Homo sapiens: one gene and its partners. The protein of the gene in region 2 interacts with the protein of the main gene of each other region in a pairwise test. Each region holds a gene or a part of one and is shown on either strand. Other genes may lie near its edges. The genes, in order: GPR75-ASB3, MECP2, MGARP and COPS3.

What was found.
Region 1: the proteins of MECP2 (region 2) and GPR75-ASB3 interact in binary tests that used the Homo sapiens proteins (3 or more experiments, as listed by UniProt).
Region 3: the proteins of MECP2 (region 2) and MGARP interact in binary tests that used the Homo sapiens proteins (3 or more experiments, as listed by UniProt).
Region 4: the proteins of MECP2 (region 2) and COPS3 interact in binary tests that used the Homo sapiens proteins (3 or more experiments, as listed by UniProt).

What each region holds. Positions count from the first base shown.
Region 1 is NC_000002.12:53,669,417-53,675,941, forward strand, and holds the end of GPR75-ASB3 (GPR75-ASB3 protein), read right to left. Parts: intron 1,275-6,525; coding exon 1,087-1,274; 3' UTR 877-1,086; downstream 1-876. Other genes in the region: ASB3 (ankyrin repeat and SOCS box protein 3), read right to left, coding at 1,087-1,274. UniProt on the Homo sapiens protein: Probable substrate-recognition component of a SCF-like ECS (Elongin-Cullin-SOCS-box protein) E3 ubiquitin-protein ligase complex which mediates the ubiquitination and subsequent proteasomal degradation of target proteins. Recognizes TNFRSF1B.
Region 2 is NC_000023.11:154,086,692-154,095,041, forward strand, and holds part of MECP2 (methyl-CpG-binding protein 2), read right to left. Parts: exon of another isoform or gene 7,687-8,350; intron 6,859-7,686; exon of another isoform or gene 5,519-6,858; coding exon of another isoform or gene 5,493-5,518; intron 1-5,492. UniProt on the Homo sapiens protein: Chromosomal protein that binds to methylated DNA. It can bind specifically to a single methyl-CpG pair. It is not influenced by sequences flanking the methyl-CpGs.
Region 3 is NC_000004.12:139,269,285-139,277,634, forward strand, and holds part of MGARP (protein MGARP), read right to left. Parts: intron 6,109-8,350; coding exon 6,005-6,108; intron 1-6,004. UniProt on the Homo sapiens protein: Plays a role in the trafficking of mitochondria along microtubules. Regulates the kinesin-mediated axonal transport of mitochondria to nerve terminals along microtubules during hypoxia.
Region 4 is NC_000017.11:17,270,476-17,278,825, reverse strand, and holds part of COPS3 (COP9 signalosome complex subunit 3), read left to right. Parts: intron 1-2,642; exon of another isoform or gene 2,643-2,661; coding exon 2,662-2,791; intron 2,792-7,817; coding exon 7,818-7,930; intron 7,931-8,018; coding exon 8,019-8,068; intron 8,069-8,350. UniProt on the Homo sapiens protein: Component of the COP9 signalosome complex (CSN), a complex involved in various cellular and developmental processes.

The DNA of each region.
Region 1 (6,525 bases), on a different chromosome or scaffold from region 2:
AGTACAGATGGGGTTTCACCATGTTAGCCAGGATGGTCTCAATCTCCTGACCTCGTGATCCGCCTGCCTTGGCCTCCCAAAGTGCTGGGATTAAGGGCGTGAGTCACCACGCCCGGCCCCTTTCTTTCTTTAAAGATGGTGCCACAGACATGCCCCTCTCAGTCTCCTGATTAAAATCCTAATTGTGCTAACATGCCCATTTATCTCAAAACTGAAACCATTTTTTTTCCCAGCTGAGCACATCTTTGAGTTTAGGGCTGTTCTTGCCTTTGCAGATTAGAATTGGGTTGGTTGGTTTTGTTTGTTTGTTTGTTTTGCCAAAGAATGAAAAGAAACTGGAAGGGAAAACCCAGCAATATGATTGATTTTCTATGTTCTTTCAAAGTAATTTTTTCCTGTGAGTTTACATGTGAAACGGCAATGAGTATCAATTCTTCATAAAAGTGACTGAATTACCCTGGGGCAGAGGTTGCAGTGAGCCGAGATTGCACCACTGCACTCCAGCCTCGGTGACAATGCAAGATTCTGTCTCCAAAAAAAAAAAAAAAAAAAAAGCAACTGAATAGGAAAACATGTTCTTTAATAAACATAAGAGATAGTCAAGTCTAAATAAAATAATAATGATAATAATAACAGATTCTACACCACAGTTGTATACACTTCCAGTGAAGCTTTATGCATTCCATTCTGAGCTCCTAATACCAGGTAAACACGAATCATAGGTGGAAATATGCCATGTTTAGCACTAGAAGTAACATCACAGTTTATTAGCAAAATAAAGCAGAAAATGATCAAAATGATCAGGTAAATAAATATTACAACATATAATGTACTGGTGATGAAGCTGCAATAAAGTAATATAAGTGATGTTTACAATTTTTTTTTTTTTTTTTTTTTTTTTTACTGGGAAGGCTAGTTGTAAACATAAACATTCTCACTGAACTACTGGCCCCCCAAAACCTAACCTATCTCACAATCAATAATCATCTTTTGACTATAAAATCATAAAAACTTGTACTCTGTGGCTCTTTTGTCTCGATGATTTTTCAGAGAAAAAAATTAGCTGTGTTAAGTAGTTTCACTGATTTATCCATCTTGAATAGCTGCCAGTTCTGGAACTTCATACATCCTCAGAACGTCTTCATAGAGCAAATAATTATGTAGGCTTCTGGGAAGTGGCAGCTGACTAATATAACTGTCAGACCGTAGACGTTCTGATTTTAGACTGGACCGAATTTCCAAACGACAAAGATGGGTCAGGGATGGAACAGTGGCTGGAGAAACAAAAAAAGCAAGGTGAAACTTTTTTAAACAGAAAGATGTAATAGCACATAAAGGTAAATTTTTTTTTCCCCCAACTCTTAGTAATAAAAGTGATATATTGCTTGAAAGAAGACTACTTTGAGTCAGTATGACCACAATAAACCTTATTTATTCTTTTCTACAGCCTTCAACTGGCTCCTCTCCCTTCAGTTTGTTGGCCACACATTCAAAGTCAGTATCCAGGGCCGCAAACACTAAATGCTCAAATTCTAAAGATCTGTTAATACCTGCACTTAAGAAATGGATGAACCAACTTTAGAAATGGTGGAAGCTCACAATAGCAAATGCTACCTTCCTCTTAATCTATTTCATTACAAATGGTTTCCAGACCTATCACATCAAGTGAATAGATGTACAGCTTGCAAGTTTTCCTTTTTATCCATAACATAAAATGAAAATTTTTAATTGACTCTGAGAGAAAGGGAGTATTTACTGAGTGCCTTCTATGCCATAAGCCCATGTACTTCACTCAAATTCTCTTTTTATCTTCATTAACTTCATGAAGTATATATTATCAGGCTGTTGTAGAAATTTAAAAAAACAACTTTCCAAAGTCACAGAGCTAGTAAGCAGCAGAGCCAGGATTCAAACTCAGATCTATCTGAACCCAAAGCGTGTGTGTGTGTGTGTGTGTGTGTGTGTGTGTGTGTGTGTGTGTATCTGGCAAGGCAGTGCAGCCAAAAGCTAACTACCAATTAAAGGACAATTCAAATGCACATAATTAAGAACTGTATGATAGGCCAGGCGCGGTGGCTCATGCCTGTAATCCCAGTACTTTGGGAGGCTGAGGCGGGCAGATCACCTGACGTCAGGAGTTCAAAACCAGCCTGACCAACATGGTGAAACAACGTCTCTACTAAAAATACAAAATTAGCTTGGCGTGGTGGCACATGCCTGTAATCCCACCTACTAGGGAGGCTGAGGCAAAATAATTGCTTGAACCTGGGAGGCGGAGGTTGCAGTGAGCCGAGATCATGCCACTGCACTCCAGCCTGGGCAACAAGAGGGAAACTCCTTCTCAAAAAAAAAAAGAAAAGAATCATATGATAGCAGTTTCATTTTCCAAGATGAAAAGTGTTAAATAAAGAAGTTAATGTCTGCTTTTATGTGAATCGGACCAAAGCCTTTTGTTAATTCAAGAAATCTTTTATAAATCCCTGTGAAATTTAACAATGATGAACAGACCAGGATCAGAGCATCAAAGACAAGTACTATCAAGAGCACAGCTGATACCAGACCAGCTAGTCTGATTCCAGGTATAGGGTTCTTTAAACTCTAATACCCATAGGGCTTGAGACCAATTAATTCTCTAACATCTTCAATATCTTCCAAGCCATAGAAGTTAACTCATCATCGTTTTTAGTTTACTAGTTTAGGTTTAGTTTAGTTTATTCAGAATTAAAGAAATCACTCAAACTGGTGTTTCAAAATGCCAAATAAGAAAGCAAAAGTTATCGATTTTGTACATAAAACCTAAGTCTAAGCTGGGCATTTTCTTAAATCATGAGTCATAGATTCCCTATTATAAATAATAAGATTACAGTATCTATAGTATATAGCACGCACATTTATTTCTAACTTTTTTCATATCCATATCTTACTTAAATTTGACACTTTTCTGTAAACTTAAAGGAGAAATGATGGTTCTCACATGAAAGATGGGAAGACACAGGTAAAGGGGCCACTGGAGGAAGTTGCAGGAATACATATGGAAAGCAGGCCCAAGCTGCAAACACCACCGTTTTCCAAAGGTTTAAGTAGATTGACTATGTTCAACTATCAAGTATAAGGAAGCCCTCTTAGTAGGATCATGAACAATAATTGGTCAGTTAATAGAAACTCACCTTAAAGCAGGTGACCACAACAACCATACATACTTTAAACATTCTAATTTAAAATGGATACATGAACACATCTAGAATGCAACATCTATGGCTTGCAGTTTATTTATGTATTTTTTACTCACCACTATATAAATAAGGACACAGTTTCACTTTCTTTGAGTTACAGCATGGATTTAAAGGCATGTATGAAACAAGGTGAGTGCATAATCCTTCCATATTTTTACAGGTTTTTTTGCTTTCAGTTGTTGTAGCCACGTCTAATTCAATATCTATTTCTGTTCTGTGCTTATCTTTATCAAGTCTTTTGCATTCTACTTTGCCTTAACAGCAACAATGATTCTCTTTTCACACTCATAATTCATTAGCTTGTGCAATCTGGAATTATTTAACTCCAATAATATGCACAACGTAATAAAAAGTTTCAGAAATAAGCATAACTGCTGTTTGGTAAGCACACACCTCTGCTGGTAGGAACACTGGCATTCTAGAGTGTAGCTGGCCAGCTGCAAACACAGAGCATGCCAATGGACATAGTCAGATGGAAATGAAAGAGAAAATGACAAGACTGTTTAATCCAGTGTGTGTTTTTAAAGAGAATTTCTACTTATATTCAGTTAGAGTTTAACAGGCATCTGTTAAATTGAATCTCTTCATTCTGCACATTCTTAGGAACATGAATACTTACTACACAACCAGAAGGAAGATAAAGGATGGCTGTGCAACCCGGAGGAGAGCTGCTCACATGGAGATAAGGGATCCTTAATGATGCTCCAGCTTCTCAGAGTGGACAGACTACACTGGCTTAAAATTCTATGGGCTGACTGGGAAGATTCCTCCAGATACCCTAAAACTTAATGTAGTGCTGACCAGCTTTTCTAGATTATGTGACTACATCACTGGAGGTCTATCTTTAAAGCTTAATAAATCATTTGTTTATGCTAATTATGTGTAGAAGCTTAACCATTAGTGATCAAGCCACACTAGACCAGTTCGCATTTGTTAGGAGAAGCGTAACTGACTTGCCCACTGAGATGTGGCACATCAACAACATAGCTGTTGTTAACTAGATCTCAATGATTTGACTCCCAGTCCAGGGTTCTTTAAACTATGATAAGCTCAATATAATTCTCCAACATCTTCTAAACCACTGAAACTATCATAAATTTCAGAATATCTTTCCATTTAATAATAAAAAAGGAAAAGTATAGCTACTTCAGGTATTGGTTCAAATTTTAATTGCACCATTTTGGTTTTCCTTCTAAGAGCACAACAGATCACTGGCCTAATGAACAATTAGAGGTAAGAACTATGTTCAGCTGAACTGAGGGAGTGTTTCATGTGTAGATTATTAACACAGACAATAATATGCCTGTCAGTGCCATTTTTGTTTAATATGCCAGTAAATACTAAGGGAATTTTATAACCATATATGCAATATTTCAAAGCACACAAAATCCCTATGAAAGTTTTAGTGATGCATAGTTATTTCCAGACGTGTTGCCACTAGGCTAGAAGATCAAGCCATGCCTTGAATTTATAATACGAAAAAGGCCACAGAAGCTGTATGTAAAACATACTTTCATGAAAACCTATTAAAACTATATTTTAGTTTTGTTAAATACATCTCCATGTTCTTGGATTATGGCAGTGATTGTAACCTAGAAAATGACGTCTGAAACCATGCTACACTTCTAAGTCACTTTTCTGACCCAATCATTTTTATTCAATATGTTAAACTTAGTTTATCCATAGATCTATTAGCAGATGAGTAATATTTAACTTTTAATTCCTATACAGAATTCCTCTATTTTGTTCATTTTGTTATATGTACTGGCAGAACAATCAAAATAGAAGACTACATGTTGTTATACAAAGTTTTGTTAAAATCAAAAGCACACACAATGATCAAAATAAACGTCACAATTCTTAATTCATTATGCTTATAAATGCCAACTTTACTATAGCACAAAACTATATCTATATCATACACACCCACTATATTTTCTACATTCATCTTTAGCCTTCCCTCAGGCCAATGTTCAAACAACCTATCTGCCTGAACTACATTTCTCTGGTTCCTTTGAAATGTTTTGCACATCAAATGCATTTATCTGACTTCTGAGACACCTACTACCATTTTTATTTTCATCATTAATATATTGTCTTTCTCGTTGGTATCCATCCTTTTGTTCCCAGTTTTTCTTAATTTACTTGTGTTGTCTCTCTCATTGACTATAACTAAAACCGCTAGAAAAAACACAAAAAGCAAGTACCTGAGAACTCTGAAAAACAAGTAATAGATTAGGACATGAAGTCAAAACAATAGGAATGGCCAGTATAAAGGAATGACCAGTAGAGGCAATGAATGGATTAAATGGAAAAGCACCATCTAGTAGTAACACCTGTGCTGGCGCTGAGGTGCCACTATTAACTAGCTGTGTGACCCTGGGCAAGTCATCTAAATATTCTGACTTTCAGTTACCTTTCCATAAAATGAGAATAATGCCTCATCTACAAAATGGGCATAATGACACTTCCCTGCATCAAAAGGCTGTTGATGATGTTCAAGTTGGAACACATTTGCAAAAGCATTTCATAAAGTGAAACACCACACAAATCCCAGGCACCACAGAATCTAGTGATCTCCAAATGTTTTGATTACACACTAAATTAGTAAAGTCTCTGACCACAGAATCCAATATATATTTTACATATAAATTACATGTATACTATTAACCAAACATTATTTGTACTATAAAATAAAATAAGCCAATATAAAATAAGATATATACTTTAAATAATTTCATTTTTAAAGGTATAAGACTCCTTTAAATATTAATATTTTAACAAGAACAAGGTGATTGACTAGGCTTTATTAATGTAATTCTTAGTGATCTAGCAATTCAAAGAGTTGGTTCTAAGCCCAGTTTATTCTGATACATGGATGTAGCTGAAATAAGGTCTAAATGGGAGAAGTACACTGTGGCTTAGCTGAACTAAATCAGGATTCTATCTAGCCTATCTAGCAATTATGAAAAAGTTATTGTCAAAATTCATCTGGTAAATTTCTATTTTTTCCTGATATCAATCAGTTTATAAGCTAATCAGAAAGTTTTGCATTTTTACTAAATGGAGTTCAAAACAAAGGGGAACTATTTCCAAGTGTTTTAAGTATGTCAATGAAAGAGTTTTTCCAGGTGATATATACTACTTTTCACAAGAAAATAACGTAACAATAAAAATATTTCCTAGTACCTATTTTCAAAATCATCTCCACATAGCAAAAGTTTCTTTCATTGCTTGGCTTTAACCTGCATTGCAGGGCATGGAGGGGAGTTCCTTTCAGAAGGCAGTTACT
Region 2 (8,350 bases):
CGCTCTTGTCGTCCAGGCTGGAGTGCAACGGCATGATCTTGGCTCACTGCAACCTCTGCCTCCCAGGTTCAGGCGATTCTCCTGCCTCAGCTTCCCAAGTAGCTGGGACTACAGGCACGCACCACCACGCTTGGCTAATTTTTGTATTTTTAGTGGAGACGGAGTTTCACCATGTTGGCCAGGCTAGTCTCGAATTCCTGACCTCAAGTGATCAAGCTGCCTCAGCCTCCCAAACTGCTGGGATTACAGGCATGAGCCACCATGCCCAGCCCCATATAACTTTTTTCTATTATTATTTTTCTGAGATGGAGTCTCACTCTGTCGCCCAGGCTGGAGTGCAATGGCACGATCTTGGCTCACTGCAACCTCTGCCTCCTGGGTTCAAACGATTCTTCTGCCTCAGCCTCCCGAGTAGCTGGATTACAGGTGCATACCACCAAGCCCAGCTAATTTTTGTATTTTTAGTAGAAATGATGTTTCGTCATGTTGGCTAGGCTGGTCTCGAACTCCTGACCTCAGGTGATCCACCCACCTCGGCCTCCCAAAGTACTGGGATTGCAGGCGTGAGTCACTGTGCCCAGCCCCGTATAACTTTTTACACCACCTTTTTAATTCCGTATTGTCCATCTAACTATTCAAAAAATCATTTAAAAAACCCCGGCCTTATACAAGAAGTCTTTTCCTTAATCGTGTCATTTATTCTATCCCTCTTCCTTTAAGTAAAAAATATTTTCAATCAAAATCAGAATTCGACTTCAGCTTTGAGGGTATTTATTAGATTCAAATAATGCAATTTATAAAAATTACACTTGCTACCCTAAAAATATATTCACTAAAAGCCTTTTCTTTTTTTCTTTTTTCTTTTTTTTTTTTTTTAAAGAGACAGTGTCTTACTCTAAAGAACGAGGCTGCCCAGGCTAGAGTACAGGAGTACAGTGGTGTGATGATGGCTCACTGTAGCCTAAAACTCCTGGGCTCATGGGATCCTCTCACCTCATCCTCCCGAGTAGCTGGGACTACAGGCATGAGCCACCATGCCTGGCCCCTCTATTTTTATCAGGTGTTACAGAAAAGCTTCAAAATCATCATGGAAGAAAATTATCATTTTTACCAGTACAAAACTTTTATTGCATCCCAACCAAGCTAAGATGAATACAGAATTGTTTCAACAGAAGTTACCATTATCATAATTCAAGACAAAAATCAGCCGGCAATTACATGAGTTGGAAAACAAACTACTCTTATGTCACAGTCTACCCTAAAGCTCCAACTTATGTCAGAATTTAAAATACACACACATATACACAACCCTGTGGATTCCTCCTCATTTATGTAAAACCTACTTTTGTGATGATCTGCTATTTTCTTGAGTCTTCTGGAATGAACACTGTAGCCCCACTCCCGGATAAGGAGAAGATACCACTTCCAGGGCTTAGCACTGCCCCTGGCTTGAAGCAGATACTCAAATATTTGTTGGGTGAATGAATGATTGTCTGCTGATAGGGCTGCCCATCAAGCCTCATAAAGAAAAAATTCAGAAAAAAGCAACTTTATAGAGAAAATAGGAAAAAGTTTAAGAGATATTTTGCTCACTTGAAGAAATCAGCATTTGTTAAAGGTGAAGACTGGATTGACTGGTTCATCAAGTGGCTTAGACACAACTGACTAAGTGGGCTATACCTTATCCCACCCCAAAGTTAAATACAAAACAGGTATTTTTTTTTTTAATCACAGGAAAAACACAGGGCAACTTAACTATAAAATTATTATTTTTATTTTTTATTTTTGAGACAGAGCCTCACTCTATCGCCCAGGCAGGAGTGCAGTGGCGTGATCTTGGCTCACCGAAACTTCTGCCTCCTGGGTTCAAGCGATTCTCCTGCCTCAGTCACCCCAGTAGTTGAGATTACAGGTGCCCGCCACCACGCCTGGCTAATTTTTGTATTTTTAGTAGAGACGGGATTTCACCATCTTGGCCAGGCTGGTCTTGAACTCTTGACCTCAGGTGATCCACCCGCCTCAGCCTCCCAAAGTGCTGGGATTACAGGCATGAGCCACCGCATCTGGCCCTTTTGTATGTATTAAATACGTATGTATGAATATAATACATCATCAGGTTTTTTAGGAAGAAAATATAGATGACTATTGATCTGTTGTTAAGAGTAGGAAAGGATTTCCTGGCGGGGCGCGGTGGCTCACGCCTGTAATCCCAGCACTTTGGGAGGCAGAGACGGGCGGATCACAAGGTCAGGAGATCGAGACCAGCCTGGCTAACATGGTGAAACCCTGTCTCACAAATACAAAAAAATTAGCCAGGCGTGGTGGCGGGCGCCTGTAGTCCCAGCTACTCGGGAGGCTGAGGCAGGAGAATGGAATGAACCCGGGAGATGGAGCTTGCAGTGAGCCAAGATCACGCCATTGCACTCCAACCTGGGCGACAGAGCGAGACTCCGTCTCAAAAAAAAAAAAAAAAAAAAAAAAAAGAGTAAAAAAGGATTTCCTAAGTATGAAAGCAAAAGAATAAATCATAACATAAATTTTATATATCAGAAAGACAAGAATCAAGACGTAAGACAAAACAGGAAAATATCTGCATGACAAAGAGTTAACATCTTTAATACATTAAGAGCTATGACAATGATTATTGAGGTTTAGCCTCAGTAATAATCCAAGCGGCACCAATTTAAAAGATGTATATCCAATTCTGGGACGATATGGGAAAATGGCACTTTCTCAGACTGTTGTGGGAACTGGGATAGCCATTTTGGACAGTGATGTGGTGGTATCCACCAGAAATTCCAAGTCTAGGCAGCCATTCTTCAAAATGACTGGCACATGAGGAATTTCAATCCTGTAGCATTTTTAATAACATAGAGAGACAACGAAATGCATGACGGTAAGTCAGCCCTGGACTACACTGCTATTTAAAAGAAATGAGGCAGAGATGAATATATGAGATGGAAAAATGCAGAATATGTATATATAACACCATCCTGAGGCCAGGCACGGTGGCTCACGCCTGTAATCCCAGCACTTTGGGAGGCCAAGGCAGGTGGATCGCCTGAGGTCAGGAGTTCGACACCAGCCTGGCCAACATGGTGAAACCCATCTCTACTAAAAATACAAAAATTAGCTGGGTGTGGTGGCAGGCGCCTGTAATCCCAGCTACTCAGGAGGCTGAGGCAGGAGAATCACTTGAACCCAGGAGGTGGAGGTTGCAGTGAGCCAAGATTGTGCCACTGTACTCCAGCCTGGATGACAGAGCAAGACTCCATCTCAAAAAAAGAAAAAACAAAACAAAACAAAAACCCTCCTGTTAATTACAACACAAAAAGTACACAGTTTAGTCTTAGAAGACTTAGAAGGATCTACATTAAGCTATTAACAGCAGTTATTCTGGGTAGTGGGAGCAGAGATTAAGCGGGGAGCTTTCATTTTTTTACCTGATACTTTTTTTTTTTTTTTTTTTTGAGACCGAGTCTCACTCTGTCACCCAGGCAGGAGTTCAGTGGTGTGATCTTGGCTCACTGCAACCTCCGCCTCCCAGGTTCAAGTGATTCTCCTGCCTCAGCCTTCCGAGTAGCTGGGACTACACGCTCAAGCCACCATGGCCAGCTAATTTTTGTATTTTTAATAGAGATGGGGTTTCGCCGTGTTAGCCAGGCTGGTCTCGAACTCCTGACTTCAGGTGATCCACCCGCCTAGGCCTCCCAAAGCGCTGTGATTACAGGCATGAGCCACCTTGCCCAGCCACCTGATCAATTTTTAAGTGGTTTGATTTTTCTATAAATCCATGTATTATTTTAGTAATTCTTTAAAAAGTAAAAGAAGAAAAATAGATATCAAGCATTTATCTACTAAAGACGGGTACTGTCCTTTGAGAATTCCCTCAAAAGTTCTTTGAAGCTCAAATGGCTACATCTTTCCCATTCATAAGATACTTTTTAAATTTCCTCTTTCTACATTTCTTTTTAAAAGTTTATTTTCAATTAGCTTCCTCAGGTTGAACTCTCTGTACATTTCTTAGGAGAAACTGTATGGTGTCAACACTGCCTGTTTTATAACATCCATTCGTAATCTGTAATCTGAGAAAAAGACTCGTAAAAACCCAAACCACCCTCCAGGCCTAACATCTTCCAGAAGAAACCCATTCACTGCCCATATTACATTTAGTCCACACAATTTCTGAGACAAAGCACAAAGCACTAGCCATACAACTCCCACCAGCATAAATACGTGGAGTACAAAGAATGTCCTGTCAGCTGGGCCCAGAGCACACCCCACAGCAGTAAAAGAGAATGACAATTTGAGTCACAGGATCAGGAGCAGAATCAAATTTGGGACTTGAGGCAGTGTGATGCTCTTCTGGTCTTCCGCTTCCTTCCACACCTTCTATTCTCCTTCAGCCAAACCTTGCCCTCACATAATCCCTAAGCAGGCTATTTCTTATGGATGTCTACAACAGCTTCACACTGAGGTGTCAGAAACCACTAGAGAGACAACAAAGAACGACTTAGGGTCTCAGTCGGAATCACAATGGCCGCATAAGTGAAAACTCACATTTTTGCTTAGGGGAAAAAAAATGGGAAAATTCAATTGGAACATTCTGCTTTACCACACAGAAGTTCTGAAATCCACATGTCAAAACATCAAATGCGGAGTGACCACTAATCAAAAAGACAAAACAAAACAACAACAACAACAACAACAACAAACAGCTTGAGATGTTGAGCCTGAAGGTTGAGAAATTAAGGAACCATTCATTTTTACAAAACTAAAGTCCACACAATGGTGCCAAGTAGTTCAAACTGCAGCTGATACAGCACCTGAGTGTCAGACCTAGAATGACTGGGGCCCCCAGGTTTTTACAAAGTACTCATCCTCCTCTAGAGTCCCAAGAACCAGATGTATATCTGGGTACTCTCTTTAGTTACCATGGGAGGAGTGTAGCAAGCACATGACATTAGCCATGGCCCCCGGTGTTCTGAGACAGCTTTCAGGAGGGTGTCCTTCTAGGGAACCAACCACATACCAGTTCCCATATCTGAAAATGCATTACCACTGCTCACTAATGTTGACCACTAAGCCATTTACCCCAAACCAAAGCAAACACATGCTGAAGACCGCTAAGGCAACAGCAGCAGCGCAAAAGGGCTCAGTGCAAGCGCTCTCAGCTCAGCTGACCTGCTTCAAGGTGAACTGAAGTTGCAGATCACCAGTTCCGGCTCTAATCTGACGCCCGCCCCCAGATCACGCTGTGGCGACCAAGTAACCCTACACACACTGACCTTTCAGGGCTCAGGGAAGTGACTTTTTTTTATTATATGGCACAGTTTGGCACAGTTATGTCTTTAGTCTTTGGGGTACTTTTATACTGTCCAAGAGTAGTATATTTTTTTCCTCTTTTCCTTTTTTTTTTTTTTTTAAAAAAAAAAAAAACAGATGGCCAAACCAGGACATATACTAAAAAAAAAAAAAGGAAGGTTACTTACCTGAGCCCTAACATCCCAGCTACCATGGAATCCTGTTGGAGCTGGTCTACAGAAGCAAGGTGTATTCTGGGGAGTCACATGTCACATCAAAGCAGGAACTGGTGAGTCTGTATTTTTATGGAGCCTAAAACAAAGAAAATTGTAAGTTGAAAGCCCCCATTGAGCTGCACGACCTTTTTCCCAGGGCTATTTGGGACATTTTGAAGATAAACACATAGACAAAGTACTAGGCTATTTCCCAGCTTACCTAGCTAGAAACAAAGGATAAGCTGCAAATTACTGGCACGTAACACACAGTGCTAAAATAAAGGAAAGATTCATGCTTGTTAGAATCAACACTATCACAAGCCTTGTCACCTCTAGGGGACACTTCGACACTACAAAAGCATACCATGAGTGGCGATTTCTGGCAAGTATTTCTTCTACCACGGCACACAGAAATTCTCAGGGAAGAATACATGTTCAAGAGAATACGCAACATCAAAATACCATCCCTGAAAGAACACATGGAACCTAGAGGCAGTCTCCCTTCTTTTTCAAGCAGCTGAATGAAGTTGCAATAAGCTGCTGTAACAACATCACATAAAGGGGCTTTAATCCTGAGAGAAAAAATCAGCACCAAGGGAAACCAAGTGCTCTGGGAGACCCAAAGCCATCATCCAAAACATGCAAGTCTATTTCAGGGCAATCAGTTTTAAGCCTCTCAGATCAGTCAATCTCGATGTTCAACAAACTCAGTTATTAGTTTGATAGTTTCTCTTTTTCTTTTGAACACATGTTCAAAAAAGGACTTTTGTCAGTACCTTTTTTGTCATTAAGATAACCATCATTTCCTAGTTAAAGCCTAAACTGCCCCATATGAATTAGCTAATTTCTGATACTATGCTGGCCCAAGAGTAGCACTTTTATAAGCTAAAAACGAAAGCTCAGAGCATACAACTTAGAGACTATTCACACAATTACTCATGTAATCAAACCCAGAAGAAGGGCAACACCAACCAAGTCTTTTACTGGTCTGTTGCTGCTCTACAGCTACCAGGATGGTACCTAAAATTATCTTTTGAGGTTCAGTGAGGCCTCATAATTCCCTTAAACAGTCAAGTCATAGAATACTTTGAAATCCCAGAAGTCAAGTTAATAGTATTACTCGGCTAGCTATATAATAAAAACCAAACTGGTATCCTGGCTAGGAGGCCCTGGAAAAGTCACAACTTCTCAGGGACACAAGTTTTTTTTGTTTGTAAACTGATGGTGCTGGACTAAGAATCCTTCTAGTTCTTAAAGTTTAAGATAATTAACTTAAGATTTCATGTCAAAAAGAAAAGAGCCAGAGGCTGGGTGCGGTGGCTCACGCCTGTAATCCCTGCACTTTGGGAGGCTGAAGCGGGTGGATCACGAGGTCAGGAGTTCAAGACCAGCGTGGCCAAGATGGTGAAACCCCGTCTCGACTAAAAAAAAAAAAAAAAAAAAAAAAAAATACAAAAATTAGCCAGGCGTGGTGGCAGGTGCCTGTAATCCCAGCTACTTGGGAGGCTGAGGCAGAGAACTGCTTGAGCCCGGGAGGCAGAGGTTGCAGTGAGCTGAGATCGTGCCACTGCACTCCAGCATGGGTGACAGAGTGAGACTGTCTCAAAAAAAAAAAAAAAAAAAGAAAGAAAGAAAAGAGAAAATGAGAGCAGTTTATGAAATCTAAAAAAGAAAGTTAATATATATATAAAACACCCCTAGCTCTTGGGCTAGGAAGACAAGTGCATCCTTACTAAGGCTTGGTCCTGTCAACTTCAGAGGCAATAATGAGAGCCCAGACTACAGTGTCTACAGTAACTGCAAAACAGCCACACAGCACAGCGGGAACACATTCACACGCCAGGAGACCCAGCATACATGTGCTTGAAGAAGTTATAAGACTCAGGCTTTATTCTCTAACGAAATGGTCATTCCCCCTTTGATGTGGGGGTGGGGGTGGGGATGCCCTGCCCACCCCCCAATTCCGGCTCCCACTCAGTTATCCCACATACCATACATACCATCAAAGTATTTAAGCAATGGCATGCAAAGCAAGCTTTCGACAGGTTTCTTGCAAGAGAAAGGCAGAAGAGAACAGGTAAAAGCAGAAGAGCACACAGGTAAAAGCAGAAGAGCACAACTTCTACTTAAGCCCAAAGAAGAGGGACCTGTTCACATCTTGTCCTACCCGGAATGATGCACACGCACAGGGGCTTGCCGGGACAGCAGTAGTTTCACTGGAAAGGGCTGGTATGGAGGCACCGAGGACAAGGTCCTTCCATCGCAGCGGTGATAATGCTCTACCCAAGAAAAAAAGATTGCGTCTGCCAGCCACGCAAGACTGGTCTGCAAGGATGTCACCATAGCAGAGGGCAGGGAAAACAAGCAGGTGTCCTGCCACACTCTTTGGGACTGGCCAGTCTAGGAGTGTGCTTTACCCCACGCACTGAAAACACTGGTTACTAGAAATATCAAACATTTCCTGTGATTCTCTCCTCCAAGATAACTCGGGCAGCTTGAGAACAAGCTGCTCTTAGCTAATTAAAAGATTTCTGCTGATATTAACCTTTATAAAAGATTTCAGGTTCCAGGACACGTCATTTATCATGCAGAGTCCCAAGCAGGTACATTAGCAATGGAAACCAGGCTCCAATAAGGAACTAACAATTTTATCTCTGTTGTTCTTTATTTTAGGTTAAAGAAATGAACTTCTCGTTTCATCTCCACATGGGAGGAATGTTCTGGAGGGGGTAACAGCCTATTAAACTCATCTAGCTTTTTTTTTTTTTTTTCAAACTCCACAGCTTGCCTCCCTACCCTACTAGACTAGATTGCACAGAGGCAGGGCAGGC
Region 3 (8,350 bases), on a different chromosome or scaffold from region 2:
ATGAAAACCTGTACACAAATGTTCATGGTACCTTTATTTGTAATAGTCAAAAACTGGAATCAGGCCGGGTGCGGTGGCTCATGCCTGTAATCCCAGCACTTTGGGAGGCTGAGGTGGGTGGATCACCTGAAGTCAGGAGTTCGAGACCAGTCTGGCCAACATGGTGAAACCCCATCTCTACTAAAAATACAAAAACAGCCAGGCATGGTGGTGGTGCTCGCCTGTAGCCCTAGCTACTCAGAAGGCTGAGGTGGGAGAATTGCTTGAACCCAGGAGGTGGAGGTTGCAGTGAGCCGAGATCATGCCATTGCACTCCACCCTGGGCGACAGAGCAAGACTCCATCTCAAAAAAAAAAAAAAAAAGAAAAAAGAAAGAAAGAAACAGTATTGGGAAGAAAGCTATTTTAATCACAGACAAAATGTGCAGGCTTCCTTTCATTTTATATTTAAGTAGTCTTCTTTGGCCTGTATTCATATTAGAAAATGATATAAAAAATGAAAATCTCATTATTCAGTTACTATTGTTTGTATTAATTTAGCTTTTAAGAAAATGTTGGTAGTGGTTTAACTTTTAATGGTAAGATGATAGATTTCTAAAATTTATTTATATATAGTGTCTTCTAAATTTTTAACCATCAGAAACCAAGTACCTTATTTAAAAATTGTACTACTTAATTACAAACAATTTTACAGTGTAAAAATTATGCTGTGAAAATAGAATGTCTGTAATGTCGGGGCCGGGTGCAATGGTCCACACCTGTAATCCCAGCACTTTGGGAGGCTGAGGCCAGCGGATCACCTGAGGTCGGGAGTTTGAGACCAGCCTGACCAACATGAGAAATCTGGTCTCTACTAAAAATACAAAATTAGCCGGGCGTGGTGGCGCATGCCTGTAATCCCAGCTACTCGGGAGGCTGAGGCAGGAGAATCACTTGAACCCTGTAGGCAGAGGTTGCAGTGAGCCGAGATCGCACCATTGCATTCCAGCCTGGGAAAGGAGGGAAACTCCGTCTCAAAAAAAAAAAAAAAAGAAAGAAAGAAAAGAAAAGAAAATCTGGGTCAAGCCTGTAATCGCAGCACTTTGGGAGGCCGAGGCAGGCGGATCATGAGGTCAGGAGATGGAGACCATCCTGGCTAACATGGTGAAACCCCATCTCTACAAAAAGTACAAAAAATTAGCCAGGAGTGGTGGCGGGCGCCTGTAGTCCCAACTACTCGGGAGGCTGAGGCAGGAGAATGGCGTGAACCCAGGAGGTGGAGCTTGCAGTGAGCAGAGATCGTACCACTGCACTCCAGCCTGGGCGACAGAGCGAGACCGCGTCTGAAAAAAAAAAAAAAAAAAAGAAAAGAAAATCTATAATGTCGGGTAGAAGTGATGTAAAGTGACCCTTTTATAGCAAACTTCCCGGGGTTTAGTGAACTCAGACTTGAATCATTTGGCTTTGAAACATACAGAGCAAATATGATCAACGGGAATGATAATCAACATTTTCTGTATAAAAGCAAGGAATATTTTCCGAGTAGGGTGTGTGTTCCTGACACCTTGTAGGACCAATATGATAAGTCAGTATCCCCAGTTCTCAGTACACAAACCGAACCAGTACACAAGTTCACATCCCTGAAAGGATCATTCCAGGAACAACATTCCAAGGGACATTAGTCTCATTGCTCAAGGGGCTAAAACACAAGGCAAGAAAAAAGACTAACTTTAGGGAGAATTGAAGAGATACAATACTAGAATAATTCACCCTAATGTGTGGCCCAAAGAATCTAGGTTTTCCAAATCCAGCACAGTCGAGCACAGAGTAGAATAAAGGCCTATTAAAAGAGAGGGTCTCAAATTTAGACTTTGGCAGTTATTTACAAATGATATTAAGTATTTATTAAGTATAAGCATTTAAAATATACTACAATTTTTATAAGCCAGTCTGGTACTACTTTTTAAGATATACCAGACCAGGCCGGGCATGGTGGCTCACATCTGTAATCTCAGCACTTTGGGAGGCCGAGGCGGGTGGATCACCTGAGGTCAGGAGTTCGAGACCAGCCTGGCCAACATGGTGAAACCTCATCTCTACTAAAAATACAAAAATTAGCCAGGCGTGGTGGCAGGCGCCTGTAATCCCAGCTGCTCAGGGGGCCGAGGCAGGAGAATCGCTTGAACCCGGGAGGCGGAGGTTGCAGTGAGATGAGATTGCGCCATCGCACTCCAGCCTGGGGGACAAGAGATACCCAGACCCTCAAAAAAACTGGAGTGATCTGGGCCTCTTTCAGATTCCAATGACCCCTAATAGTCGAGGATTTTGATTGCAAATGGAAAACTGCTTTTGGCTACTAAGCATCTGTGGGGTCAATTCATAAAAATCTAATATAGAGATTATTTTAGTACAGGACATGAAATGGAAGGGGAGAACAAGTATACAGGTTTTGGAGTGCCTTACATTCAGCATTTCCTCCTGAAAGTAGCCTAAGATTCCTGGCAATTAAGGCTTCCAACATTTGAGATTAAAATCACATAAACTTAGAAATGGAAGGGAACAACTTCCATCCCTACTGTGAGAGAACAAGGCCAGAAAGGGTTCTCAGGGATGGCTGGTTTATAAATGTATAACCTTTTAGTTTAAGATTCCTTTTGCAACCAGTGAGTTAGCAGTCTGGCAAAGTTTGTTTTTGGCACTGGTACATATTAATATAATCAGGGGTATAGTGATGTCCAAATGAAATTCATCCTTCTAGCTTCCCAGCCTATCACATGGCCTAGTCTCAATCTCTGTTTTTTTTTTTTGGTGGCCTACACCTCAACTAGAGTGGGTTTGAGCCATGAATTCAACATTAAACAGTAGAAAGATGACAGAACAAAGGAATCTGGGCACAAGTGAAAGCTGGCAGATTAGTAGAGGACAACAATATAAGTGACAAGTTTGCAGTTTCCTGACTCCTTGAGGCTCTCAAAATTCTGAAGATTATGACTAGCCTTAAAAAAATTTCTAGGCCGGGCTTGGTGGCTTATGCCTGTAATCCCAGCACTTTGGGAGGCCGAGGCAGGAAGATCACGAGGTCAGGAGATCAAGACCATACTGGCTAACACAGTGAAACCCCGTCTCTACTAAAAATACAAAAAAAAATTAGCTGGGCGTGGTAGTGGGCACCTGTAGTCCCAGCTACTCAGGAGGCTGAGGCAGGAGAATGGCGTGAACCCGGGAGGTGGAGCTTGCAGTGAGCCGAGATTGCATCACTGCACTCCAGCCTGGACGAGAGCGAGACTCTGTCCCCTCCCAAAAAAAAAAAAAAAAAAATTCTGAGGATTAGAATATGTATTTTGGTTTGGTTTGGTTTGGCCATCTTACATAGTCCTATGAAACTGCTTCTAGTTATGACTAAACATCTCTTTATTCATATTTCTTTTTTTTTTTTTTTTTTTGAGACGGAGTCTCACTCTGTCACCCAGGCTGAGTGCAGTGGTGCAATCTTGGCTCACTGCAACCTCCGCCTCCCCGGTTCAAGCAATTCTCTGCCTCAGCCTCCAGAGTAGCTGGGATTACAGGTGCCCGCCACCACGCCCGGCTAATTTTTGTATTTTTAGTAGAAATGGGGTTTCACCATTTCTTGACCAGGCTGGTCTTGAACTCCTGAACTCGTGATCCACCCACCTTGGCCTCCCAAAGTACTGGGTTTACAGGTGTGAGCCACCGGCCCGGCTTTATTCATATTTCCGTAGGTCCAAACCAAAATATAGTGACTGTGTACTCTTAGAGTTTACAAAGAATTTCTGCTTATTCTACTTTTATTCTTTACATTTTTTGTAGAGATGGGGTCCCGCTATGTTGGCCAGGCAGGTCTCAAACTCCTGCAAGCAATTCTCCTGCCTTGGCCTCCAACGTGCTGGGATTATAGGCGTAAGCCACCACTACAGGCTCTACTTTTATTCTTTTTTATTTATTATTATTTTTTTTGAGACAGGGTCTTGTTCTGTTGACCAGGCTTGAGTGCAGTGGTGCAATCTCAGCTCACTGCAGCCTTAACTTCCCAGGCTCAAGCGATCCTCCCATCAAAGCCTCCCAAGTACCTAGGACCACAGGCACACACCACCACGCTGGGCTAATTTTTTTATTTTTTATTGTAGAAATGAGGTCTCACTGTGTTCCCCAGACTGGTCTCAAACTCCCGGACTCAAGCCTCCCAAAGTGCTGGGATTACAGGCATGAGCCACCGCATTACTTTTATTCTTTTTTTTTTTTTTTTTTTTTTGAGACAGAGTCTGGCTCTCTCACCCAGCCTGGAGTGCAGTGGCACAATCTCAGCTCACTGCGACCTCCACCTCCTGGGTTCAAGTGATTCTCCTGCCTCAGCCTCCTGAGTAGCTATGATTACAGGCACCTGCCACCATGCCTGGCTCATTTTTGTATTTTAGCACAGATGAGGCTTCACCATGTTGGCCAGGCTGGTCTTGAACTCCTGACCTCAGGTGATCTGCCCACCTTGACCTCCCAAAGTGCTGAGATTACAGGCGTGAGCCACCATGACTGGCCTACTTTTATTCTTAATAAAGATTATATTTTGATTTAGAAAGTTTATGACAAAATGGTGAATGACTCAAGTCTTAACTTACTTAACTAAAAAATGTCTGTCATTTTAGTCCCAAAATCTCACTATTAAAACCTTTGTCTTACAGGGTTTACCTGGAGGGAATGGACATGGGGACTGGGAAGGAAAATATGCTTTTCACTTTATATATGTCTATGTTGCATTTTTTAGAAACTTATGAACAAATATGAATTTTTCAAATAATAAAACTGTGTGAAAATTTAAAACTAACAAAAATTATGGAGACAGTAAAAAGATTGGGAGGAGAGAGGGAGAAATGAGTAGGTGGAGTAGAGGGATTTTTAGGGTGATGAAACGACTCTGTATGATACTATAATTTATTCTGGATGATATTGTAATATATTTGTAAAAACAGAACATACAACGCAAAGAGTGGATCCTAATGTAAACCCTGGACTTTAGTTAATAATAATATATCAATATTGGCTTGTCAGTTTTAACAAATGTTCCACATCAGTGCAAGATTTTAATAGGGGAAAGGAGGAGGGGGTGTGAGGGGTTATATGGAAGTTTCTGTACTTTCTGCTCATTATTTTGTAAACCTAAAACTGCTCTAAAAAAAGATCTATTAATTTTTTTAATAGTTATATTAATTTTTTTAAATTTTTTTTGGAAACAGAGTCTCACTCTGTTGCCCACACTGGAGTGCCATGATGTGATCTTGGCTCACTGCAACCTCAGCCTCCTAGGTTCAAGAGATTCTCTTGCTTCAGCCTCCCAAGTAGCTGGGATTACAGGCACACACCACCATGCTGGCTAATTTCTGCATTTTTAGTAGAGATGGGGTTTCCTCATGTTGGCCAGGCAGGCCTCGAACTCCTGACCTTAGGTGATCCACCTGCCTCAGCCTCCCAAAGTGCTGGGATTACAGGCGTGAGCCACTGCACCCAGCTCCTATATTAATTTTTAAGTTAATCTTTCAAAATAATTCTTTTAAAATGTTAATAATAGTGCCTACCTTGTAGACTTGTTGTAATTATTAAATGATCCAGGAGTCTGGCATATGATAAACACTCAAGTATCAGCTATCACTATTAGCATTTATAATAAAATTATTTTTACTGAAAATCATCCATATTAATGGTATTAAGAAATGCTGACTTTACAAATACAAAAATCTTCATAATTTAGAAAGCTGAGGTTCGAATGAAATAAAACTTAAAAATAAACTAAAAAAGAAAAACCTTCATAATAGTCTAGCTAATATATTCTTATGAAAACCCTGTATTTCTAATGATTGCCACCTATTTTTCAGATGTGTATGCTTAATGACACTTAAATCTATTGCTATGTTGTATATTTAATTAATCTCATGTCCTGATCTTGACGTTGCTTTGAGCTTTACCATGAGTTGTAAAATACATGAATTCTTGAGCACTGTGGTTATATAATCACTTACATAATATCCACCAGCACTGACTGTGACGCCTACAACCAGATAATAAATCATATTTGATCCAGATGATCCAGGGAATCTGTTAGATGACATCCGGCGCAGAGATGCTAGGAAAAAAATGTTTAAACACAGTTAGCTTCACTAGTTGAGCAAAACTATTTTAAATAATTACATCTTTCAAAATTTTTCTACTCAGTGAACCTAGAATCTATTAACATCAAGTGATTTTAGCTTAAGGGAATACAGTATTACGAGGCTGGGTAATAATTCCACTTGACAGTCTCCCAATCTAATTTGATAAACACTCATGAAACCTGTCATCTTGATGCTGAGCATCATGCCTTCTTGGAAGGGGTGCAGGTGTGGGTAAGGAGAAATGACAAAAGCACTAAAAAATTTTAACAGCCAAATGAAGTGCACATTAGCAAGAGAAAGCCATGTACTATATGTACTCCACTACAGGATTCAGTGAAAATATTATTTTTTAAAAAATGAATTCAGTATGTTTATACCTAAAATGTAATACAATTTGTATTTATATGTTAAATCAAGCATTTATGTTGAAATCCATCATATTTCTATAAATCTATAATACACATGTAGGTATAGAAAGAAATCTCAATTTTTCTCTTATAAAGCAAATATGGGCAGATAAAACGTTTTTAAGCCAAATGTTGCAGAAAGGTTGTATCTGAAATAGAAGTACAATTCTGTATAAACTAATAGAAACAGATAAAGGTACTATATTATTATATTTAAACATTTATTTTGTAGTACTAACATTTGCATATCCTATAATGCCCTGGAATTGAAATTTTTACAATAAACTTAAAGTCGGAAGGAGCTTAAAGTATATACAACTCAAATTCTTTATTTTAAAAATAAAGACATAAACACATTTATGTATTCTTTCAACTAACACAGCTGAGCATCTACTACGTATTTGGAATTGTTAGAAGCATTAAGAATATAACCGTGAACAAGACAGATAAGGTCCCTAGTCTCAAGCCATTCACAGTCTAGAAGGAGGGTATGAACATACAAATAATTGTGATACAGTATGACAAATGTAATAAGTGTTAAGCCAAGCTACAGGCAGAGTAAAACTCAACTAGCTGGCCAAGGTAGTTGTCATAATAGAAGAGACCTGAGTTTTGAAGGAAAATAAGGGAAAGAGGAATGGCACTGGAGGCAGAAGGTGTAACGTATAAAAGCATGAGAGATTCGTGACCCAGAAGGTACAAAGTACAGGATGAATATCCCTTATCTAAAATGCTAGCAGTGGGTGCAGTAGCTTATGCCTGTAATCCCAACATTTTGGGAGGCAGAGGTGGGAGGATCACTTGAGCCCAGGATTTCAAGACCAGCCTGGGCAATGTGGTGAACCCCATCTCTACAAAAAAATTTTATAATATTAGCTGAGAGTGGTGGTATGTGCCTGTAGTCCCAGCTACTTTGGGAGGCTGAGGCAGGAGGATCACTTGAGTCCTGCAGTGAGCTGTGATTGTACCACTGCTCTCCAGCCTGGGCAACAGAGAAAGGTTCTGTTCCAAAAAAATAATTAAAATAAAATAAAATGCTTGGGACCAGAAGTGTTTTGGGTTTTGGATATTCTTTATTTTGGAATATATGCATACACATAATGAGATATCTTGGGGATGGGACTGAAGTCTAAACAAAAAATTCATTTATGTTTCGTATACACCTTACACACATAGCCTGAAGGTAATTTCATACAATATTTTGAATAATTTTGTGCTTGAAACAAAGTTTGTGTTAAGTACTTACATGTGAAATTTTCTACTTGTGGCATCATGTCAGTGCTCAGAAAGTTTCTAATTTTGGAACATTTTGTGTTTTAGATTTTTGGATTAAGCATGTCCAACCTGCAATTTGATGTGGCCTAACATAAAGTATAGGGGTGCAGGGACTAGTGGAAAGCTATGATTTGCACAGGGCGAATCTTAAGGCATGCTTACAAACCTTCATAGTAGCAAAATCACAACGATTTCCTGTTTATGTTCTTAGTTTGGATATAAATGGCCGTTTCTTGGAAAAAAATTTTTTTCCTTCTAATGTGCCCCAAAGGCTATGAGAAGAGGTTATCGCTTTGACTTGTGGTGGGACTTCTGATGGCTTAAAAGTACATCTGTGATCAAATAGGGAATATATAGCCTTCATATTTCTCAAACAGACAAAAATATCAGAAATATTTTTTAAATAGAACTAAAATTACCAGAGATTTAAGTAGACTTAAATACAAATACAATGATGGACAAGTTACTTAAAAAGACAATGAAATGAGAAATTTTTCAATAAGGATTAATTAGACAAATTTTAGCACATTCA
Region 4 (8,350 bases), on a different chromosome or scaffold from region 2:
CTCTGTGACACTTAAACTTTTTTTTTTTACTCTGCCCTTGGCCCTGCACTAATTAATTATCTGGTGATTTCATAGTGACCCAGCTTTTATTTCAGTCTCAACTGGGCACTGATTGTTAACTAGTAGAGAACTAATGGATTGCAATGCTTATTTCTGGGTGTTACAAATTATTGTTAATATATTTAGAGTAATGGTTTACAAAGGCAAATTATTCAACTAGAAGTTACTTCATACCTACCAGTGAGATCTGTAATACAATGATGATGAGTTGGTATTTCCCAGTTAAATCTGTGTGATCTCAAGAGGTGACACCTAATAAGATCACAGCTGTTTTATTCTTGTTTTGTAATGCATGTATAATAATGATACATTTCCTTTGCTTTCAGTAAAATGTATCAAATTGAAAAGTGTTAAATTATCAAAAGTACCTAGCTATAGTCACTTGTATTTTAAGCATTATACTATGTTGTATTCTTTTAGTAAGGAAAAGATTATGCAGTTGCTCTGTAGAAATAGAGAAGTTGGAAACTTGAGGTTAATGCCCATGGACTTAAATATATCCTCACTGTTACCAGAAAGACAGAGTGTGACCATGGTATCTGTCATGACAGTAATTGTCAAAATTGATGGGTCTACTTAAAGGTACCAATTCAGGCCTAATTTTTTTTTTCCCCCGAAACGGAGTCTTGCTCTGTTGCCCAGGCTGGAGTACAGTGGCGCAATCTCAGCTCACTGCAGCCTCCATCTCCCGGGTTCAAGGATTGTCCCAGGTTAAAGGATTCTCCCACCTCAGCCTCCCGAGTAGCTGGGATTACAGGTGTGTGCCACCACACCCAGCTAATTTTTGTATTTTTAGTGGAGACAGGGTTTCACCATGTTGGCCAGCCTGGTCTTGAACTCCTGACCTCGAGATATCTGCCCACCTTATCCTCCCAAAGTGCTGGGATTACAGGTGTGAGCCAGCCTGGTCTTGAACTCCTGACCTCGAGAGATCTGCCCACCTTATCCTCCCAAAGTGCTGGGATTACAGGTGTGAGCCACAGCACCCGGCTGAGGCCTAATTATTAATAGATTCTGTACCTTAGTTGTTAAAATGTAGCATTGCAGGCTGAGTGTGGTGGCTCATGCCTCTAATCCCAGCACTTTGGGAGGCCAAGGTGGGAGGATTGCTTGAGCCCAGGAGTTAGAGACCAGACTGGGCAACATAGTGAGACCCCTGTCTCTGCAAAAAACTTAAAAAATAAGATGGGCATGGTGACGTACACCTGTAGTTCCAGCTACTCGGGAGGCTAAGGTGGGAGGATTGCTTGAGCCCAGGAGATGGAGGCTGCGTTGAGCTGTGATCACACCACTGCACTGCAGCCTGAGCGACAGAATGAGACCCTGTCTCAAAAAACAAAACAAAACAAACATAGTATTGCAGTATAGGGGAAAAATAGATCAATTAGGAGATTAATTCAACAAGTAGCTGCTTGATGAACTGCTAAGCAGGTGATGTATTCTAGAGCTGGAGAAAGGGACAATCCCTCCACCTGAGTTTACTGAAATACCTAACCACTACAGTCCCATGCGAGGCAGAGAGGGCAGATACCCAGCTTAGCCATGGGGAAGGGAGCTGAGATGAGGGTCTAGAGACGCCACAAGTTGATTGCTGAATGCTGGATGAGGCTCAGTCAGGTAGCAGAGGATGTGGGGGAGAAGGACAGAGAACAGCATGTGTAGAAGCATAAAGAGGAGAGAAGATAGAATGTTGATTTTCTGAGCTTGCTGTGATCGAAGAGTAGGTGTGTGAGGGGAAGTAGCAGGAGATAAGGCTGGAAAGGTAGCAGGGACCAGTTATTGAAGGGCCTTAGTTCAGGCTGAGGCGTTTGCACTTCTTAAAGTCATTGGAATAACTTGATTGAATGCACAGTTTATAGAACAGACAGTACTAATATGGAGTGCGGGTTGGAGGAGAGAAAGATCACAGTAGGCAGACCATTTAGAAGATTTATGATGTAGGCTGGGCGCGGTGGATCATGAGGTCAGGAGTTCAAGACCAGCCTGGCCAAGAAGGTGAAACCCCCGTCTCTACTAAAAATACAAAAAAATTAGCCAGGTGCAGTGGCAGGCGCCTGTAATCCCAGCTATTTGGGAGGCTGAGGCAGGAGAATTGCTTGAACTTGGAGGGCGGAGGTTGTAGTGAACCGAGATTGCGCCACTGCACTCCAGCCTGGGCGACACAGTGAAACTCCATCTTAAAAAAAAAAAAAAGATGTAGTCCAGACAAAAAATGATGAGGATCTGAATTAGGGCAGAGAGGGGAGAGAGAAAGAAATGGAGCTGAGAGACTTTGGAAGTAAAACTAAATCATTTGGATGCAGAGAGCTGTTAATAGTAACGTGCATTTCTGGCTTGGGAGACTAGAAAACAGAATAGAGAAAAAGGTGAAACATTCAGGGTCAGAGAGAAGTGGGAGGTCCAGTGTAATCTCTAATTCGTTTTGAGACCACGGACAGGTTGTTTCACTCCTCTGGTCCTTCTGGATCCTCATCCGAAGTGAAGGAGATTAAGAATCAATTTTGGGAACTTCAGGCTCTGAAGTACAAAGTTGTGGTTAGAGTTCCATCAGTTTGGTTAGTGCTGTAGCTGAAATGCAATAGTGTTGTTCCTGTTTTCCAGGGCAAATGACACAGCTTTGTGAACTGATCAACAAGAGTGGGGAACTCCTTGCGAAGAACTTATCCCATCTGGACACTGTGCTCGGGGCTCTGGATGTACAAGAACACTCCTTGGGCGTCCTTGCTGTTTTGTAAGGAGCATCTTCTTTTATAGTTCTGTGCTTGTTAAAATGGAACACTGTGCACTTCCTGGCTTTATTTTTATTTATTTATTTATATTTTTTGAGATGGAGTTTCGCTCTGTCACCCAGGCTGGAGTGCAGTGGCACATTCTTGGCACACTGCAAGCTCCGCCTCCCGGGTTCACTCCATTCTCTTGCCTCAGCCTCTTGAGTAGCTGGGACTACAGGCACTCGCCACCCGCCCCAGCTAATTTTTGTATTTTTAGTAGAGACAGGGTTTCACCATGTTAGCCAGGATGATCTCGATCTCCTGACCTCTTGGTCCGCCCACCTTGGCCTCCCAAAATGCTGGGATTACAGGCGTGAGCCACCACGCCCAGCCCTGGCTTTATTTTTATTTATTTATTTATTTTTTGGTGTAGAAAGTAAACCATTGTAAATAACATTGAGCTCTTTTGCAAAACTAAAGTTATGGCAGTTACAGTTTATTGATTCCAGCTAATAATTGCTTGTTATATTTTGTTCAACTTTATCATTTTTAAAAACTCTTTTATGTATCCGGGCATAAAGAGGTTGCAGTGAGCCAAGGTCGCGCCACTGTACTCTAGCCTGGGTGACAGAGCGAGACTGTCTCAAAAAAATAAAATCAGTTGTTGCAGCTGGGCACAGTGGCTCCCGCCTCTAATCCCAACATTTTGGGAGGCAGAGGCAGGTGGATCACTTGGGGCCAGGAGCTCCAGACCTGCCTGGCCAACTGGTGAAACCCTGTCTCTACTAATAAAAAAACTAGCCGGGTGTGTTGGCGCATGCCTGTAGTCCCAGCTACTCAGGTGGCTGAGGCATGAGAATTGCTTGAGCCTGGAAGGCAGAGGTTGCAGTGAGCCAAGATTGCACCACTGCACTCCAGCCTGGGCGACAGAGGGAGACTCTCTCAAAAAAAAAAAAAAAATCAGTTGTTGCTTTTCCTGCTTTGAGAACATACTAAGGGGGCCAAGAGTGAGAGCTATGGGCTGGCTGGAGGTGGGCAGCAGCTTAAGTTAAAGATGCTGCCACCAGCTGTGTGGTCTATCTGAGAATAACACTGACAGAACAACTGATAGGCAGGACAAGAGGAGTAGAGTGGTGAGAAGAGGGAGGACTCAGGTGATCCTTCCCAAGTAACTCAGACTGCCATGAGAAACACTCCAAGGAGGCACTGGTGATAGGTTTTAGGGGAGAAATCATGTAAACTTAGCACTATTAAGGCATTGGTTGTAAGTAAATTTCAAATTCTTTAAAAAAAAAAAAAAGCACGATTGAAATGTAATTTCAAGAAAAATTAGGCCAGACACAGTGGCTTACATCTGTAATCCCGGCACTTTGGGAGGCCAAGGCGGGTGGATCACAAGTTCAGGAGTTCAAGACCAGCCTGGCCAACATAGTGAGACCCTGTCTCTACTAAAAATACAAAAATTAGCCGGGTGTGGTGGCATGCACCTGTAGTCCCAGCTACTCGGGAGGCTGAGGCAGGAGAATGGCTTGAACCTGGGAGGCGGAGGTTGCAGTGAGCTGAGACAACGCCACTGCACTCCAGTCTGGGTGACAGAGTGTGAGACTCTGTCTCAAAAAAAAAAAAAAGAAAAGCTAATCATAATTTCTACTACATCTTTTGGTTTATCTGCTTCCATCTATACTGTATTATTTGACTTAACAATGTCACCATACATCTGTATTTACACTTTGTAATTATCAAGACATGTCAGAAACAATTTCATCTGGGGTTCACAATAGGTCAGTGAGGCATTGCGACTGCCAGTTTATAAATAAAAATATGAAGCTCAGGGCCCCACAACTCAAAATTGGAAGAATATGTAGATTCAAAACCAGGGTCCTCAGCCAGAAGCTCAGGGTTCTTTCCATACCTTATCTAACATATACAACGGTAAACACCTTATACCTTCAAAATGCATTCATGTCCATTACTCACCTGATATATATGTTTATGTGAGTTTATGTGTGTATAAAACATGCATGCTCTCTGTTCTTTCTTGAGATAGGGTCTTGATGTCACTCAGGCTGAAGTGCAGTGGTGCAAGCATAGCTCACTGTAGCCTCGACCTCCCAGGCTCAAGCAGTCCTCCCACTTTAGCCTCCTGGGTAGCTGGGACCACAGGCATGTGCCACCACACTCAGCTAACTTTTTTTCTTTTGGGGGGACAAGGTCTTGTTCTGTCACCCAGTCAGGAGTGCAGTGGCATGAGCACAGCTCACTGCAGCTTCAATCTCATGGACTCAAGTGATCTTCCAACCTCAGCCTCCTGAGTAGCCAGGACCACAGGTGTACACCACCACGCCCGCCTAATTTTTGTGTTTTTTTGTAAAGACAGGGTTTCATCACGTTTCCCAGGCTGGTCTTGAACTCCTGAGCTCAAGCAATCTGCCCATCTCAGCCTCCCAAAGTCCTGGGATTACAGGCATAAGCCACCATACCTGGCCACTTTTTTTTTCTGTAGAGATGGGGTCTTGCTATGTTTCCCAGGCTGGTCTCAAACAGAGCCTCCCAAAGTGCTAGGATTACAGGTGTGAGCCACTGTGCCCAGCATCTGCTCTTTCATATAAATAAGAAAATACAGACAGTAGAAATCCTTACCAGCACTGTCCAATAGAACTATCTGCAGTGGTGGAAATGTTACAAACCTGTGCTAAGACAAGGACATGTGACCACATGTGGCTACTGAGTACTTGAAACATGGCAAGTGCACCTGAATCTTTAATTTTAATTTAAATAGCTGCATATGGCTAGTGGCCACCATACTGCAGAGCATAACTCTAGATCCTTCCATTCTGACAAAGCTTCTTCTCTAAACTCTGCTCCGGACACATACCTTTGTCTCAGGAATCCCAGCGTAAGTGAAGCCAGACTCTCACTTTAAGTCAATTTCTTCTCAGTTTATTTATATCATTTCAAATGTCATGACAACCACAATATCCCAATTTATAATACTATAACATCAAGAGAAAAAGAATTCTACTGTCAAGTACACGGTTACAAGGAACCCCAATTAAAATAAGGTCTATTTAATTTGGTCTTAAATAGCTTAAATTTGTTTGAAGGGAATTCTAAGCAATGTTGCTTTGGATCTTTGATACTTTTTCTTTTTTTGAGAAAAGGTCTCACTTTGTCATGTAGGCTGGAGTGCAATGGCTTAATTGTAGCTTACTGAAGCCTTGAACTTCTGGGCTCAAGCAATCCTCCCACCTCAGCATCTTGAGAAGCTAGGACTATAGGCATGTACCACTACACCCAGCTAATATTTTTATTCTTTGCAGAGATAGGGCCATATTATGTTGCCTAGGCTGGTCTCAAACTCCTGGCCTCAAATGATCCTCCGACCTTGGCCTCCCAAAGTGTTGGGATTATGAGCAACTGTGCCCAGCCAATATTTTCATTCAATGTATTCTGCCATGCCCTGTGGCAGTACTCCTCCGAACTTCTTTTTAATTTAGAAAATGTGGACATTCCTGTGGATTACATGGATAAAAGTATTCAGATAAATGCAAACTATAGTCCCCACAATTGAGATGGCCATTTTTTAAAACAAATTTTCAGGATTTGTATAAACATAAAGGAGTTTTTTTTTTTGAGACGAGTCTCACTCCGTCACCCGGGCTGGAGTGCAGTGGCACGATCTCAGCTCACTGCAAACTCTGCCTCCTGGGTTCAAGCAATTCTCCTGTCTCAGCCTCCCAAATAGGTGGGATTACAGGCACCTGCCACCACGCCCGGCTAATTTTTCTATTTTTTGTAGAGATGGGGTTTCACCCGATTGGTCAGGCTGGTCTTGAAATCCTGACCTCAGGTGATCCACCCGCCTTGGCCTCCCAAAGTGCTGGGATTATAGGCGTGAGCCACCGTGCCTGGCCAATTTTTGTATTTTTAGCAGACATGGGTTTTCACCATATTGGCTAGGCTGGTCTCGAACTCCTGACCTTGTGATCTGCCCATCTGCCCACCTTGGCCTTCCGTAGTGCTGGGATTACAGGCTTGAGCCACCATGCCCAGCCTATTTGGCTTCATTTAGTGGAATTTTTCATCTTGAAAGTTGTTCCTTATTAAACATATATATATATATAAAACATATATGTTTAATATATACATGTTTATTATTTAATATATATTATTAAACATATGTGTGTGTATGTGTGTATATATATATATATATAGATATATATAGATTTTTTTTTTGAGACAGTCTCGCTCTTGTTGCCCAGGCTGGAGTGCAGTGGCACCATCTCAGCTCACTGCAACCTCCACCTCCCGGGTTCAAGCAGTTCCTCAGCCTCCCGAGTAGCTGGGGTTACAGGCATGCATGCACCACCACGCCCGGCTAATTTTTTTGTATTTTTAGTAGAGACGAGGTTTTTCCATGTTGATCAGGCTGGTCTCGAACTCCCGACCTTAGGTGATCCTCCCGCCTTGGCCTCCCAAGGTGCTGGGATTACAGGCATGAGCCACTGCGCCAGGCCTAAACATATTTTTCTTAACCCTTATTTGTGTCCGTTCTGTATAGTGATTGTGCAAAATAACCAGGTCAGGAAAATCTCATGGATTCTAGTTCTTATTTATTTGTTTTTTGAGACTGGATCTTGCTCTGTCACCCAGGCTGGAGTGCAGTGGCATGATCATAGCTCACTGCAGCCTCAACCTTCTAGGCACAAGTGATCCTCCAGCCTCAGCCTCCCAAGTATCTGCAACTACAGGCATGTACCCCCACGCCTGGCTAATTTATTTTTTGTAGTAGAGACAGGGTCTCACCATGTTGCTCAGACTGGTCTCAAACTCCTGGCCTTAAGCAGTCCTCCTGCCTCAGCCTCCCAAAGTGCTTGGATTACGGGCATGAGCCACTGTCCTGGCCTAGTTCTTAATTCTAAAAAATACTGTTGCTCATTTAATTTTACAGAGTATTGGAGGCAGGATGGATTTCTTGCATACATTGTTTCTGTATTTTATCCCATGAACTATCAGGGTAATTTGATTCTTTTCTCCTTATTCTAGGTTTGTGAAGTTTTCTATGCCCAGTGTTCCTGACTTCGAAACGCTATTCTCACAGGTTCAGCTCTTCATCAGCACTTGTAATGGGGAGCACATTCGATATGCAACAGACACTTGTAAGCTAAATAACATTTTATTCTCCATTGAAAATATTTTGCCCTTGTGGTTATATTTATATTTTGAATATTTTGTTATTGTATCTAGTTGCTGGGCTTTGCCATCAGCTAACAAATGCACTTGTGGAAAGAAAACAGGTAAGAAATACTATTCAAGTATTCCTAGTTTTGTTATAATATGTAACTAGCTTACACAATGAATTACTTTATCAAGATTCCAGTTAGTACTGAGCATCCACCACCTAGATATCTGTGGTCACTTGAGAGCACTCACAGCCATTGCTGTAAGCTCAGGCAGTCCCCGCATCCCCTGAATGAGGTGGAGGCACGGGGTGGTTTGGCACCTCAGGGAGGCTGCTGCTGGAACTACCAAGTAGTTGGAATTACCAAGCCAGTACCCTTTATGTTGTAATATGCTGG